Linked DNA regions of Homo sapiens. The protein of the gene in region 3 interacts with the protein of the main gene of each other region in a biochemical or structural test. Each region holds a gene or a part of one and is shown on either strand. Other genes may lie near its edges.

Evidence for each region. Proteins that work in one complex are often made in the same cells at the same time.
Region 1: the proteins of PARD3B (region 3) and CLDN20 interact in a test that uses a peptide from one of them, tested with the Homo sapiens proteins (one large-scale study listed by IntAct).
Region 2: the proteins of PARD3B (region 3) and ZNF599 interact in a test that uses a peptide from one of them, tested with the Homo sapiens proteins (one large-scale study listed by IntAct).
Region 4: the proteins of PARD3B (region 3) and KCNB1 interact in a test that uses a peptide from one of them, tested with the Homo sapiens proteins (one large-scale study listed by IntAct).

Annotation. Positions count from the first base shown.
Region 1 is NC_000006.12:155,262,651-155,266,812, forward strand, and holds the start of CLDN20 (claudin-20 precursor), read left to right. Parts: upstream 1-1,362; 5' UTR 1,363-1,638; intron 1,639-4,162. UniProt on the Homo sapiens protein: Plays a major role in tight junction-specific obliteration of the intercellular space, through calcium-independent cell-adhesion activity.
Region 2 is NC_000019.10:34,766,716-34,770,215, reverse strand, and holds part of ZNF599 (zinc finger protein 599), read left to right. Parts: intron 1-660; coding exon 661-787; intron 788-2,804; coding exon 2,805-2,900; intron 2,901-3,500. UniProt on the Homo sapiens protein: May be involved in transcriptional regulation.
Region 3 is NC_000002.12:205,297,475-205,300,974, forward strand, and holds part of PARD3B (partitioning defective 3 homolog B), read left to right. Parts: intron 1-3,055; coding exon 3,056-3,262; intron 3,263-3,500. UniProt on the Homo sapiens protein: Putative adapter protein involved in asymmetrical cell division and cell polarization processes. May play a role in the formation of epithelial tight junctions.
Region 4 is NC_000020.11:49,371,169-49,374,668, reverse strand, and holds part of KCNB1 (potassium voltage-gated channel subfamily B member 1), read left to right. Parts: coding exon 1-1,686; 3' UTR 1,687-3,500. UniProt on the Homo sapiens protein: Voltage-gated potassium channel that mediates transmembrane potassium transport in excitable membranes, primarily in the brain, but also in the pancreas and cardiovascular system.

The sequences.
Region 1 (4,162 bases), on a different chromosome or scaffold from region 3:
TTATCAAAACTCTACATAAGGCTTACAAACTATTAAGACCAAAAGCACAAATACAGAGATAGATGCACTCTCTTCCAGTACAGAAACTGCCACTTTCAGCTTCCTTAGATTTTAAATTTTGGCCTCATCTTTATTTGCCTGATTTCATTCCTTTGAGATATAGTTGGTATTTGCAAATACAGGAAGTGTCTAACTTTTGCTTGATTTAAATAAAGTTTTAAAACCCTGAACAAATATAGTAGTACCCCATGTAAACTATAGCGTCGACTTCTAAAGTTTGAATACAATTCCAATACTCTGTTAAGTTGGCTTATATTATGTCACGGCTAAAAGAGAATTCCCCTCACAAATGCAGTTACTATTTAGTGGGAGATTCTGTAAAACTCAGCGTCAACAAAGCTCTTCCAGTTATGTCTCCTGCTTCTGGGACGGCCAGGACCTCTCCTGTACCACCCCTTCCTCTCCCTTTCCCCCAAAGGCACCTTTCAGAATTACTCTGAATGATGGAGCCCATTTTTTTCTAGAACTATAGGAAAGCTGCTTGGTAACTATGGTAACGAATACAAAAATGTTTTTTACTTATAATTGAATGCTTATTTAAAATTACAAGTATTATTTTTTCTTCCTTGAGTTTTAAGTCTATTAATGGGTTTGATTACAAAAAAGAAATCAGTACAAAGGCATCAGAAGTACTTAAAATATTCTAGTTTAATGCCGCCAGCCTTTTCCAAACTCAGTCCATCAGTATACCAAAATGACCTACTAAAATTTCAAATGAAAGGATTTAAAATGAATTTAAATATTTGCCTTTCTAACCCTATACGTCAACGCTGTAACAAGCTAAGACTGTTTCTCAGTGTTAGCAGCCTTGGCCATAACAGGCCCGAGGCAGATGTCCTAGTTTCCAGGCCAGGGTGTCTAGGACGTGACTGGTTATCAGCTCAGAGCAGCACTTGGAACTCACAAGGGACCCGGGCTAAGGAGATATTAAATCTTAAATCTTAGATATTAGATATTACAACTGAGAACTGTAATCAACATGATATACAGAGGACACTGAAGAGACGTACAACTCAGTTCCTGATGATTATCATATGCCCAAAAGCTAAGTCACGACCACATGCACAGACACAGAAACAATGCTGGCCACTGTCTACAAAAGGGTCTTCATTCAACACTCTCACGGTGTTCAAGACCATTAGAGGACAAGATAGTGGAGATGAAAAAATGATGAGGAAGTTACTATGTAAATAGCCAAGACACAGCCATAACTTAAGACAACAGAAGGGCTAGTGAAAAAAAAAAAAAAGACCACAGGGAATAATCAGTAAGACTTTAAAGAACAACATATAAGAAGGATTCAAAGTTCGAAGTGGGATGATCACGGGCAGACCTGGGTGGTTGGGAACAGGAAGCATATGGCATCTTGCAGGCTATAGGCACCACAAAATGGAACGCAGGAGGACAGGGGCTTGGGAGAGCCACTTCACTGTCGGGTAAAACAACGGAGCAAGATGAGTGCCTCCGGATGCTTGGTTTCCCCACCCTCCAGTGTCTGCTTGCTCTTCAAGTACCTCCACCAAGCTAATGACAGTCCACTTTAGGACATCACGGGCCTCGAGGTTACAACTTTCCCAGGTAAGGAGAATCCCAGGTAGAGGCAGCAAGTCACTGATGCCTGTGATATGATAATTATGCATGTCATAGAAAAAGAAAATACTGACAAATGTGAATGTAGATCACATTTTCTGGAATTGGTTCACTCTACCTGTGATCCATGTCCAAAAGCCAATTTAAGGAAAGAATTTCCACTGTAAAACCTTAAAGCTGACAGCATTCTAAGTATTTCAAACCAACTGGTTCAATAAAGATCAACTACACGGTCAGTACCTATCCTAAAGTTTACAATTTGTGTTATTGTAACAATATTTATTTCTGCAGAAGTTCTGTCCTCACCCTTTTTTCTTCCTACAGATCTTTGTTTTTTTCTCTTTCTTCTTGGGATCATAAAAAAAGAACAGATTTTAAACAGTCACATAGTGTTTCCTCTCAGAGCAGATGTGGTAGGAAGAACTGAGGCCAAGAGAATGACAGCAAACTCAGATCACAAGAGAAATAAGACTAAGAAATGTGGTGAGGGGGATGAAGAGTTTTTTTACTGTGTAAATTATGTAAATGTACATATGTATGTATGTAAATTACACCTATTAGTAATAACAACAACAAGATGAGTCAGTGTCTCTTGGTCCCAAGAGATTAAACAATTTCAGGGAGATGCACGTGTAATCCTCAAGAAAGCACAAATGGAACAAGAACTGACAATTGTTGTATAAAGGTTTTCTGTTACATTTAATCTGGAGTTCCTGGATGATCAGAGGGAAAAGACCTTCCTAAAACTAGGCCTTTTCCACAAACCACGCCCTTGGTGTCTGTGAAGCAGCAGCATCTGGACGTGCCCTGTGTTTCCTGTCCCGGGCTGTGCTCCCGCTTGGGTTTGTGGATGTGGCAGGAGCTGCCTGAGGCAGCTTCGAGGCTGCCCAGCCGGGCCATGGGTGTGGCAGCACATTGGCAACTGCCAGGGTCTGGACCCCAGCGCTGCAGGTCCTGAGCAACTCCCGTCCCTCAGAGAGAAGACAGGACCTCAGAGAGGCTCTCAATCTAAACAAACTCAGAAGGCACTTGATAAATGCTGCTAGTAATATTATTAAAAGACTGAGAAATAGAACATGCATACAAATATAGTAATTCATAATAAACCATAATTATCAAACGGACTAGACATCACACTGAAGATGCTTGGTCAGTACATTCGTATATTCATAGCTGATACTGTTAATTTCCTAAGGCTGGGACAGAAGAAGAACATTATTTTAGGATTAGGTCAAATCACTTTAAATTTGTAGGGCTGGAACAGGTAACTATTTTATCTTACTCTGAACTGTCATTATTTTCAAGATTGAATGGAAAGCAAAGAAGAAAAAACATTTGTATTAGGGTTCTCTAGAGGGACAGAACTAATGGAATATATATATATGAGTTTATTAAATATAAATATTAAATATATTTATATATAATATAAATATATATTATATATAATATATAATATATATTTAATATATAATATGTAAATATTAAATATATATATAAAGAAGAGTTTATTAAGTATTAACTCACATGATCACAAGGTCCCACAATAGGCCATCTGCAGGCTGAGAAGCAAGGAGAGCCAGTCCAAGTTCCAAAACTGAAGAACTTGGGAGTCCAATGTTTGAGGATAGGAAGCATCCAGCACGTGAGAAAAGATGTGGGCTGGGAGGCTAAGCCAGTCTCTCTTTTCACATTTTTCTGCCCACTTATATTCTAGCTGAGCCGGCAGCTGATTAGATGGTGCCCACCCAGATTGAGGGCGGGTCTACCTTCCCCACCTCACTGACTCAAATGTTAATCTCCTTTGACAACACCCTCACAGATACACCCAGGATCAATACTTTGTATCCTTCAATCCAATCAAGTTGACACTCAGTGTTAACCATCACAACATTTTTTTTAAAATTCAGAACCCCAACTTTTCATTAGAATTAAATGGACAGCATTTGAAAAATACAAGGATGGGGCTCCATCCCAGAAAATTAAATAAAAGCCACTGGGTTGGGCCTGAGCCTCTTGGGGCTTTTCCAAAGCCCTCGTGTGGGCAGAAATGAGAATCACAGGTTTGGGGAACAATCCTAGTTGCTTGGGAAAGTATCACACAGTCAACTCAAATCCTGGAGATTAAATTCACTAGAAGTGCAGCTAGAGCCCTGTGACACCCACAAAGCCAGCCTGAGTCCCTGCTGGATACAGCTCACCAGGGGGGATGAAAAGCCAGATACAAACTTCCCCAGTCTCGCTCACAGTTAAGAATGACCAAATGAGGCTGGGCGCTGTGGCTCACACCTGTAATCCCAGCACTTTGGAAGGCCAAAGCGGGCGAATCATGAGGTCAGGAGATCGAGACCATCCTGGCTAACACGGTGAAACCCCGTCTCTACTAAAAAATACAAAAAATTAGCCAGGCGTGGTGGCGGCCGCCTGTAGTCCCCGCTACTTGGGAGGCTGAGGCAGGAGAATGGCGTGAGCCTGGGAGGCGGAGCTTGCAGTGAGCTGAGATCGTGCCACTGCA
Region 2 (3,500 bases), on a different chromosome or scaffold from region 3:
AATGGAGATGATGACATTTACATCATGGGCTATAGGATGACTATTGAAATTTACACACATTGTAACACATGCTGGGCACTGCAGTGTTTGCTTTATGAACATTTTCTCATTAATTTTCACAACAGTTCGGTGAAGTGGGAACTATTAATGTATTGATGTGGAAATTGGAGCTCCAAGAAATTAAGAGACTTCTCCAAGGTCACACATCTGGCAGGTTGGTTCAAGAGGCTGGATTTAAACTTCAGGAGCCTGATTCCAGACCTGGAGACTTTTAGTTGCTTGAACACAGCATGTGAAGCCCTCAGGTGCAGGCAAACAGTGCAGACCAGTGAGGCTCAGCTGCTGCTGCTGTGATTATTGTTTGAATTATTATTTTTCCCCATTCTTGTAATGTCCTAGGACATTACTGTCTGCTCCTCACAGTCAGATGGGATTATCATTGTCTTGTATCATTTTCCAATGGTTTCCAACATAGGAGGCTTTTCTGTCCCACATCTTTGTATTCTGTCAGCGGCACCATCTGCCTCCACAGAGCCCAGTGGTTCTCAGGAGTTGCTCAGTGGTTCAGGGTCTCTGGACCCTTTGCCAGTAACCAAGAAGTGAGCTGTAATTTCACCTAATAGCTCCACAGCCACCTGTCACCTCTGTTTGACTTCCCAGGCATTAGTATCATTTGAAGACGTGGTTGTGACCTTCACTGGAGAGGAATGGGGGCACCTGGACCTGGCCCAGAGGACCCTGTACCAGGAGGTGATGCTGGAGACCTGCAGGCTCCTGGTCTCACTGGGTAAGACCTCATTACCCTCCCATGTAGGGGACCCACAGCCTCTTTGAATCCACCCTTTCTAGGCATGGCTGGTCCAGGAGCCTCAGAACCCAACCTTCCCTGATCCCTGCAGCCTCAGCACGTTGTGGTCTGACCTCCTCTTGCTGGGTTTCCCTGTGTCTCAATCAAAGATTGTTATGTAAGAAACACAGTCCTCCTCAACACTTTTATCCCACTGTCTAGCACAGCTGGCCTCAGTCTGACATCTTTATCCCAGACTGCCACAAGAGGTAATTGGCCCAGCTTGGTTGAGTCAAATGTCCTCACAGCCCAGTTAGCAGGACCTGTGGATAATGGGAGGTTCTACAAGCAGCGGGTGATTGACACAGACACTAAGAAGGTGTTTGTTATCAGTGCTGCTTATATCTTTTTCAGCAACACAGTCTCAGCTGAAAGGTCTCTTTGGCTCCTAGCACCTGCACAGTTAACCCTTACTTCCTAAGGCCTGTGCCTTGCTCCTCTGCTGCTACAGGAGATGATTATGATTATGGAAAGGGAGCACAGACACATTCTCAAATGGCATGGATGTATGCTATCTGAGAAAGCTGTTCTTTTTTTCTTTTCTCTTTCCTGTCTCTTGAATGTTGAGTGTTGGCTTAGGGCTGAATCTTTAACACTCCCATAGCTGTTGGTGAATTTCCTCCTCAGTAGAAAGAGTAGCCTCAAACTCCTAGCCTCAAGCAGGCAGCAGGAACTTGCTGGGACCTGTTATCATTTTGATTTTGCCATTTTTATAGTAACCTGTCACAGCAAGGTAACTAATATGTGTAAAGTGCTTAGAATAGAGCTGGAAACATAGCAAGTGTTCTGCATGTGTTTGTTACATTTAACAAATTAATAAATACCAAATGCTCTCCCACCTAAACCTTTAATGGACAGTTTGCCCAGAAGTTGGTCTGAGTAGATATGAATGGAGGCCCAAAGTCTCACTTATTCCAGTTGTTCAAATGGTTACCATCGACAGGGCTCTCCCAGTCCTGCGTCCTCACGAGGGATGAGTCATTAATGAAGTAAACGTGGTGTTATTTTATGACAACTGTGATTAGTTGTCGAAAGGAGATGTATGGGGAACAGCATTCCAGGAGGAGGGACCAACATGAGCAGCATCCCTGTGGGAGCAGGGTGCTTGATTCCTTAACAGAGATGAAGGCAGGCCTGATTCCCCTTTAATGCTGCTCATCACCCAGCTCAGTGCCAAGCATATGGCAGAACATTTGCTGAGTGTGCATGTGGCATGTAAGTGTGCGTAATCCTATGGTGAACATTTGCTAAGTGACAGCTGGATGCGTGCCAGGACAAGATTTTCCAGTTGATGCTTCTGGGTCCTGGTGCCTCAGTCATTGACTTCTCTCCAGAGTCTTCTGTCTTAGCCTTCACAGTTGGCAAAATGTGTGTGGCTGCATGTGGAAGAAGACCACCTCCTGCCAGTTTCACCCTGAAAATAATTTCTTACTTTACCTAATGAGAAGCCCTGAGGTGCTGCTGACTCCTGGCTTGGTCAGTGCCAATCCATGCTAACCCAGTTCTCTGTCTGCTTTCTCTCCTTGGTCTAGGGCCCTGGCCAGTATCCTTGTGGGGCAGTAGGCCTCCATGTTCAGCTTCAGTCACTGGCCTGCCTCACACAACTGACTATCAATAGATGCCATTCATCAGGCGATTTAGTCCTGTGTTTTTCAACCATCATGGGCACCAAAATCACCTGGGGAGCTTTAAAAACTACCAGCACTCAGTCCTTCTGCTCAGAGATTTGGTTTAATTTGTTCTGTTTTTGGAACTGGGTGTTGCTAGGTAGTTTTGATGCACAGGGTGGTTGAATCCTACTGACTTAGGTTAATTAGGGAATACTTTTGGTGAGGCAGGGGAGGGCCCTTTCTGGGGTTTCATTGCAGTATGTTAAATATATGTACTCCTTTACACCTCAGACTTTTCTTTTTGTCTTTCCCTGTACACCATACTCCATTTGTTTCTCCATGCACAGGGCATCCTGTTCCCAAACCAGAGCTGATCTATCTACTGGAACATGGACAGGAACTGTGGACAGTGAAGAGAGGCCTCTCCCAAAGCACCTGCGCAGGTTGGTGACTGAGAGTCTGGCAGCGGGTATCAGGGCAGCCTGCAGACCACCCAGGCATCACTGTGTCTGAAATGCCATGGGCAGCTATTTTGTGGTCTTGAGCAGTCATGGAGCCCTTGACCCCATGGTCCCCCGTCTTCCCACTTCTGTCACACACTCTTTGCCTTTATTCAGGTTGGAATATGTTAGGTAGGAGACAGATTCTAGGCTTTAATGATTTGCCACTCACTAGCCTCATGACTCTGGAGAGGTTGTGTGACGTCACTGTGCCTTTGGTATATAAGTTAGGCTGAGTTAATGACCTTCTCTGAAAAATAAACTCCAAAATCATGTGACTCAACAGATTAAGTTTCGTTTTGTTTTGTTTTTTTATCCATGCCATAGCCCAATGTGGGTCAGCAGGAAAGCTGTGTACCCTGTATTTATTTATGGATCACATGCATTCTGTTGTCAATATGCAGCTTTAAGGTTGCCCCGGCCAAGAGGAATGGGAGAGAAGGGCAGTAGTCACTTCCATTAACATTTCATCCACAAGAACTGGGTATTAGGCTACATGTTGTATCAGGCTGGGAAATGTGGTTTAGCTTTTTTATACCCAAG
Region 3 (3,500 bases):
TGTTGGAATTTAACACTGATGCCTTTCAATTGACATTATAATCCCTTACACAGCAGGTAACCTTGACCTTCTGTAGGAGCCCTCAAACATATGAAAGACATGGGGATCCCTGGAGAAGGTGCTTGTCAGAGCCCCCAGTTCAGTCAGTTCACTGTACCTGTAAATCCTTATAAGGACTTTCCTGATTTTGGTTCTCTTCTCTAACATGAGTCCCTACTCTACAGCTACATTCTGTGCATTCTCCAGGAATAAATAGAATTTTTTTTCCAATCCTGAAAACTCCAGAGTCCACATTTACAACCTAAGGACTCAACCACCCTTTTTGCTTTTAATATTACCATGTATTACATCCAATAGAGTTAGGTTGTAATATTGCCCAACATCAGTTAGTACTTCTACTTTGTGACTTCTATTTATATAGAGTGAATTAATTGCCAACTCTATTAATCTTGCAAAATCCATGAATCCTTAATGTTCAGTTTGCTTAGAATGAGGAACAGTGTATTTGTTTCTTCTTAGCTATGACTTCTTGCTGAGCTTCACATGAGCTCCTTTTAGATAACGTGCCTTCTATCTTGGACGATTTATTCACTTTCATGTTCCCTGGAATTTATTGCTAAACGTTGACGTGAATGCTTACAGTTTGGGCTCTAATGTAATCTCCTGAATGGCAATTAATAAATAAAAGATGGTTACTATTGCTGACAGAGAATCAGGGCTTTCTCAGATAGTTTTCATCTTCATGTTTTCACTAAACTTCATGTCAGACATCCCTAGGGGCTGATATTATAAAATATTTTCTGTAAACTCCAAAGCTTTTACTATTGCTTCTATACACCCAAACCTCTGTGATGCCTTTTGTTTTCTTGTCAGAAATCATCTTATTCAATTTCTGTTTCTTCAACTTATCTTCCTTCCTGGGAATATAAAAAATATGCCTCTTTCTGGATTTAATAGTGACATATCCTCAGTATTTATGACTTGCAAGTAACACCTGAAATTTGTCCCTGAAATTTTTTGTATTTTTTTTTTTGCTTAGTCTTATCTCTGTTGCATTTATTGAATATACTCTGTTGAATTTACTGAATACTGAATTGCACTTACCCTACATTAATAGCCAGTAGGGTTTATAAAATCTAGTGTTTATTGTCATCCTGTATATTGTTCAAAGTGCAAAGTTGTCTCCTATAAGTTAATGATGAAACTATAACGCAACATCCAATTTTTGCAGTTTGCCTACTTGACGAGGCTCCAGGGTTAATCTAGCCTAATATTCTTATTTTAGAAATGAGGACAATGTAGGGCAGTTTAAGTTGTTTGACCATAATCAAATAGAGGGTGCAGAGCAAATACATCTTTAGACAGTAAAGTACATGGTACACAGCAGAAAAGCTGGAACTAGGCTGCCTCGGCCCAGCTCCTGGTCTGGATGCTTATTAAGTGTTTAACTTTAGACAAGTTATGTCAATGCTGTGTGCCTCAATTTCTGAATCTGTAAAATGGGGCTAAAAGTAGTACCAGTAGCACAACTATAAGGATTATAGTAAGTTACTGTGGGTGAGGCATTTAGAATAGTGCTTAACACAGACTAAGCACTCCATGCATTATTAGCTATTACGATTATTCATTATGTTGACTATTTTTAACACGTTCGGATCATAGGTAAAGGTGTGTATTGCTATTTCACTTCACATAGGTATATATATACATCAGTGCTTTTTTGTACTTCTTTTGTATTCCTTAATGCTGTGTGCAGCTGCTAGTAGTAGTGTTCATAGTGGCAGTGATAATAGAAGCAAAAATAGTGATGATAGTAATAAAAGATAGTGCCGTTTATTGAGCCTTGCTAGGTGCTAGACATTGAAGTAGGTACTTTACATACATAATTCTTAATAGGTACTCTTGTCTATTGATAAATGACACAGTCGTTTTTTCCCAGAAATGCAAGTAGACTTCATGACAGTAGTCTCCTTCGTAACTGGAAAGGAACATGAGCTGTGGCCCTGGTGGAAAAGCTTTGACTGTAGAGACAAGAGCCCTGATAGAATTCCTTCTGTCTTAAAGATAATCCTGCTAATATTATATATTATATATATATATATAATATATATATATAATGCTGCTAATATTTATATAACCTAATCCTGTTATTGATAATTGAGAGACTAGCTGGGGGTGGGAATGGAGGTCAAGGAATGGAGTGGGAGGGGGCAGGTAGAGGGCAAGGCAAACCGCACAAATGAAAAACATTATATACCAGAAAAGCAATGATTCAAATTCAGTTGTGCTCTATATTTTCTGTTTTATAATTTTATATTGCATTAAAAGGTTGCCTCTTTTCTAGATACCAAATAGGAATACATTCAGAACTATAGCATCGACACAGAAAAGTTGTTTTCTTTCTTGCTTTGCTTGCTTGATTGATTGATTAAATAAATGGCAGTTACCATACATTAATAGCCAATAGGGTAAGGTAAAGTGTTTAATTAGAAAAATCACAGTCACTTCAATGTTCTTTTATTTCCATGCCCAGTATGTTCCTTACTAATCATATGAGCAACCATGGCAATGATAAAAGCTGTCAGGTGTGGGAGTGCTAGGACGATACTGGAAGAGAAGCTCTCGTCATGTTAGGTGCTTGGTATGTTTGTGTGTGTGTCTGTGAGTATGCATGTGTGTATGTGGGTATTCTCACATATGTGAAATCACTCTCATTCACATACATAGTCTCTATAAATAGCTACAGCCTTTCAAATTCATAGGTGTGTGTGTATATGCCTATAGACACACATGCATATACACTTCTGCATAGAGAGAAATGTACCTATAGTCATATTAAATTTTATCACAGCTTTAGAAAAGGAAACAGAGGCTCAGAGAAGTCAAACCACTTGTTCAAGGTTACAAAAGGTGGCAAAGCTGGAGTATAACCCCAACTCCCACCCACTTAACACCCCTTTTTTGGGATGTCCAGACAGAAATATTCTTAGAACAATAGCATTACACCACACTGCCCCATTAGAAGAGGGGTGACCTTTTGCCCTTTCTTTTCCAGAATCTCCAAGCAAAGATTTTGGTCCAACTCTGGGTTTGAAAAAGTCCAGCTCCTTGGAGAGTCTGCAGACTGCAGTGGCCGAGGTCAGGAAGAATGACCTTCCCTTTCACAGGCCCCGGCCGCACATGGTTCGAGGCCGAGGCTGCAATGAGAGCTTTAGAGCAGCCATTGACAAATCCTACGATGGACCTGAAGAAATAGAAGCTGGTAGGATGATATGCTTCCTTAAATGGCTTCTTCATCTCATTATTATCTGCAAATCATGGGCAAGAATGTGTGCTCAACTACAGAAAAAAATGATTTAAGGATCACAATTATATTTTTGATATTAAAAGTAATTCATTTTCCTGATATGTTTTGCCCTTTGGCTTAATGAACATGGAATTGGAGAACACAATATGCAATTTATTTTACAGTGCAAGGCTAAATAAATGTTCTCCTTCAC
Region 4 (3,500 bases), on a different chromosome or scaffold from region 3:
ATCTTCCGCATCATGCGAATTCTCCGCATCCTTAAGCTTGCACGCCACTCCACTGGCCTCCAGTCTCTGGGCTTCACTTTGCGGAGGAGCTACAATGAGTTGGGCTTGCTCATCCTCTTCCTTGCCATGGGCATTATGATCTTCTCCAGCCTTGTCTTCTTTGCTGAGAAGGATGAGGACGACACCAAGTTCAAAAGCATCCCAGCCTCTTTCTGGTGGGCCACCATCACCATGACTACTGTTGGGTATGGAGACATCTACCCCAAGACTCTCCTGGGGAAAATTGTTGGGGGACTCTGCTGCATTGCAGGAGTCCTGGTGATTGCTCTTCCCATCCCCATCATCGTCAATAACTTCTCTGAGTTCTATAAGGAGCAGAAGAGACAGGAGAAAGCAATCAAACGGCGAGAGGCTCTGGAGAGAGCCAAGAGGAATGGCAGCATCGTATCCATGAACATGAAGGATGCTTTTGCCCGGAGCATTGAGATGATGGACATTGTGGTTGAGAAAAATGGGGAGAATATGGGTAAGAAAGACAAAGTACAAGATAACCACTTGTCTCCTAACAAATGGAAATGGACAAAGAGGACACTGTCTGAAACCAGCTCAAGTAAGTCCTTTGAAACCAAGGAACAGGGATCCCCTGAAAAAGCCAGATCGTCTTCTAGTCCTCAGCACCTGAACGTTCAGCAGTTGGAAGACATGTACAATAAGATGGCCAAGACCCAATCCCAACCCATCCTCAATACCAAGGAGTCAGCAGCACAGAGCAAACCAAAGGAAGAACTTGAAATGGAGAGTATCCCCAGCCCCGTAGCCCCTCTGCCCACTCGCACAGAAGGGGTCATTGACATGCGAAGTATGTCAAGCATTGATAGTTTCATTAGCTGTGCCACAGACTTCCCTGAGGCCACCAGATTCTCCCACAGCCCTTTGACATCACTCCCCAGCAAGACTGGGGGCAGCACAGCCCCAGAAGTGGGCTGGCGGGGAGCTCTGGGTGCCAGTGGTGGTAGGTTTGTGGAGGCCAACCCCAGCCCTGATGCCAGCCAGCACTCTAGTTTCTTCATCGAGAGCCCCAAGAGTTCCATGAAAACTAACAACCCTTTGAAGCTCCGAGCACTTAAAGTCAACTTCATGGAGGGTGACCCCAGTCCACTCCTCCCCGTTCTAGGGATGTACCATGACCCTCTCAGGAACCGGGGGAGTGCTGCGGCTGCTGTCGCTGGACTGGAGTGTGCCACGCTTTTGGACAAGGCTGTGCTGAGCCCAGAGTCCTCCATCTACACCACAGCAAGTGCTAAGACACCCCCCCGGTCTCCTGAGAAACACACAGCAATAGCGTTCAACTTTGAGGCGGGTGTCCACCAGTACATTGACGCAGACACAGATGATGAGGGACAGCTGCTCTACAGTGTGGACTCCAGCCCCCCCAAAAGCCTCCCTGGGAGCACCAGTCCGAAGTTCAGCACGGGGACAAGATCGGAGAAAAACCACTTTGAAAGCTCCCCTTTACCCACCTCCCCTAAGTTCTTAAGGCAGAACTGTATTTACTCCACAGAAGCATTGACTGGAAAAGGCCCCAGTGGTCAGGAAAAGTGCAAACTTGAGAACCACATCTCCCCTGACGTCCGTGTGTTGCCAGGGGGAGGAGCCCATGGAAGCACACGAGATCAGAGCATCTGAACTGCCCTGCCTTGGAGGAGAGACTTTTGGGTGAGGTCCAAAGAGGAGAGCTGTTCAGCTTACCTGCCACAGAGCTTTTCTGCATGAACTCTGGAACAGAAAGGCCCTGTAAAGCCCTCAGAGAGAAGAGAGACTCCAGAGAAGGCTCCCTAAGACCTTGAGAGCCATGACAGGTCCATCAGCATGAAGTTGGCCAAGCCATAGGGCACAGCACCTCCTTGTAACAACTCTATAGCCCTCTTTGGGAGATGACATGAGTGGAACTCACAGCCACCACTACCACCACTTTAGACAGGACCGAGGCCACATACTCCCCATTCTCTCGTGGCTTTCCATCTCAGCCTCGGAGGGCAACATTGACAGTCCTCCTGGCTTCAGCTAGAGAAGGATGCTGGAACAAGCGGCTGGTGTTGAAAGAGTGGGTTGACCAATTTGGTATTGAATGTTGCCCAGCCACCCCTAGGAACACCTGTCCATCACCTCCTGGATGGATTCCACTGTTAGACAGCTACAGGGAATGATTGGTCATGGGGAAGTCTCTGCGCCATAAGCCACGATCCCAGCGCAAAACCCTTACTCAAATGTCTTCATTGACTTCGGTATTTCATAGTACCTGAGATTTTATTTTGAGATACCATCAGGGTGAGTTGCACCACTTGTACTCAATTCTAATTGCCCCCTGGCAATCTGGGAAGGGTTCAGAAGGTGGGCACCCAGCCAACAGCATGAACTCAGAGCATTGTTTTAGGGTTGGAGGAGGAACACGCTTTCTTTACATCACTAGTGTAGACTCAAAAGATATGCAAGTGTCAAATATGCAAAAGAAATAGTTTATTCAAAGAGACTGTGTGTTACTGAAGAACAGCATAAAAATATGATTTTTTTACTTGCAAAAATGAAAGGAAAAAAATACCACGCATTGAAATGCCCAGTTCAGACTGAATAATTCCTGCTGCAGCAAGGAAAGTACCTACTATAATAGAAATTCTGTTTTGTTTTCTGTGGTTTTCAAGTTAAAAAAAAAAAAGTTAAAATAAAAAGCACTTTATGTTTTTCAAAAATAGGTTCTGCCAGGGACAGTGTCAACATCTTGCACTTTAAAATAAGCACTATTTCCCATAGCCCAATTGTTGGGACTGTAGTTGGATTGTTGCTACCTGCCCATTTCTGGCCAGCATGGGTAATATTGTGCTGGTATTACTGTCTGCCATATCAAAGTCTGTGGGCTCCTTCCCTGCCCCTCTGAAACCTTCCCTTAACCCTCATGGGTCAGGAGGGGTTCTTGCCCCTTGGGTGGGGCCTCTCATGAAGTCAAGTATACAGGAGACATGCACATCTCAAAAGGACACAGTGACAGTTGGACATTGGGTGTTTTACTCTGTTCTCTTTCTTGTCAACCAGCTATTGGTTTTTCAGTGTCACTGTCTGTACTAAAAGCTCAACTCTCCTTCCTGCAGCCATCGATGCAGCCAGTACAGACAAAAGCAATAAGTATTTGTGTGCATCCTGAGTGGTTCTGGTGTATTTCTTGGTGTTGGTTTTCCTGTCCTCGTTTGATGACCTGGCATTGTCCTGCCTGCTTTTAGTCCAACAGCATGGTGTTGTTGGCCATTCCTCAGTACAGTGGCATTAGGTTGAACCACTGATGAATACAATGCTATAGTGTTGGCTCACCTGTCAGTAAAGATGACATGTTATTGGTCTGCCTGTCTGTAGTACAATGGAACAATGTTGTTCTCTTAATGTAATGTTGATGGATGATGTCCCAAGTACAATAGTGTAGTTCTGTCTATCCTCAATACAGTAACAGGCAT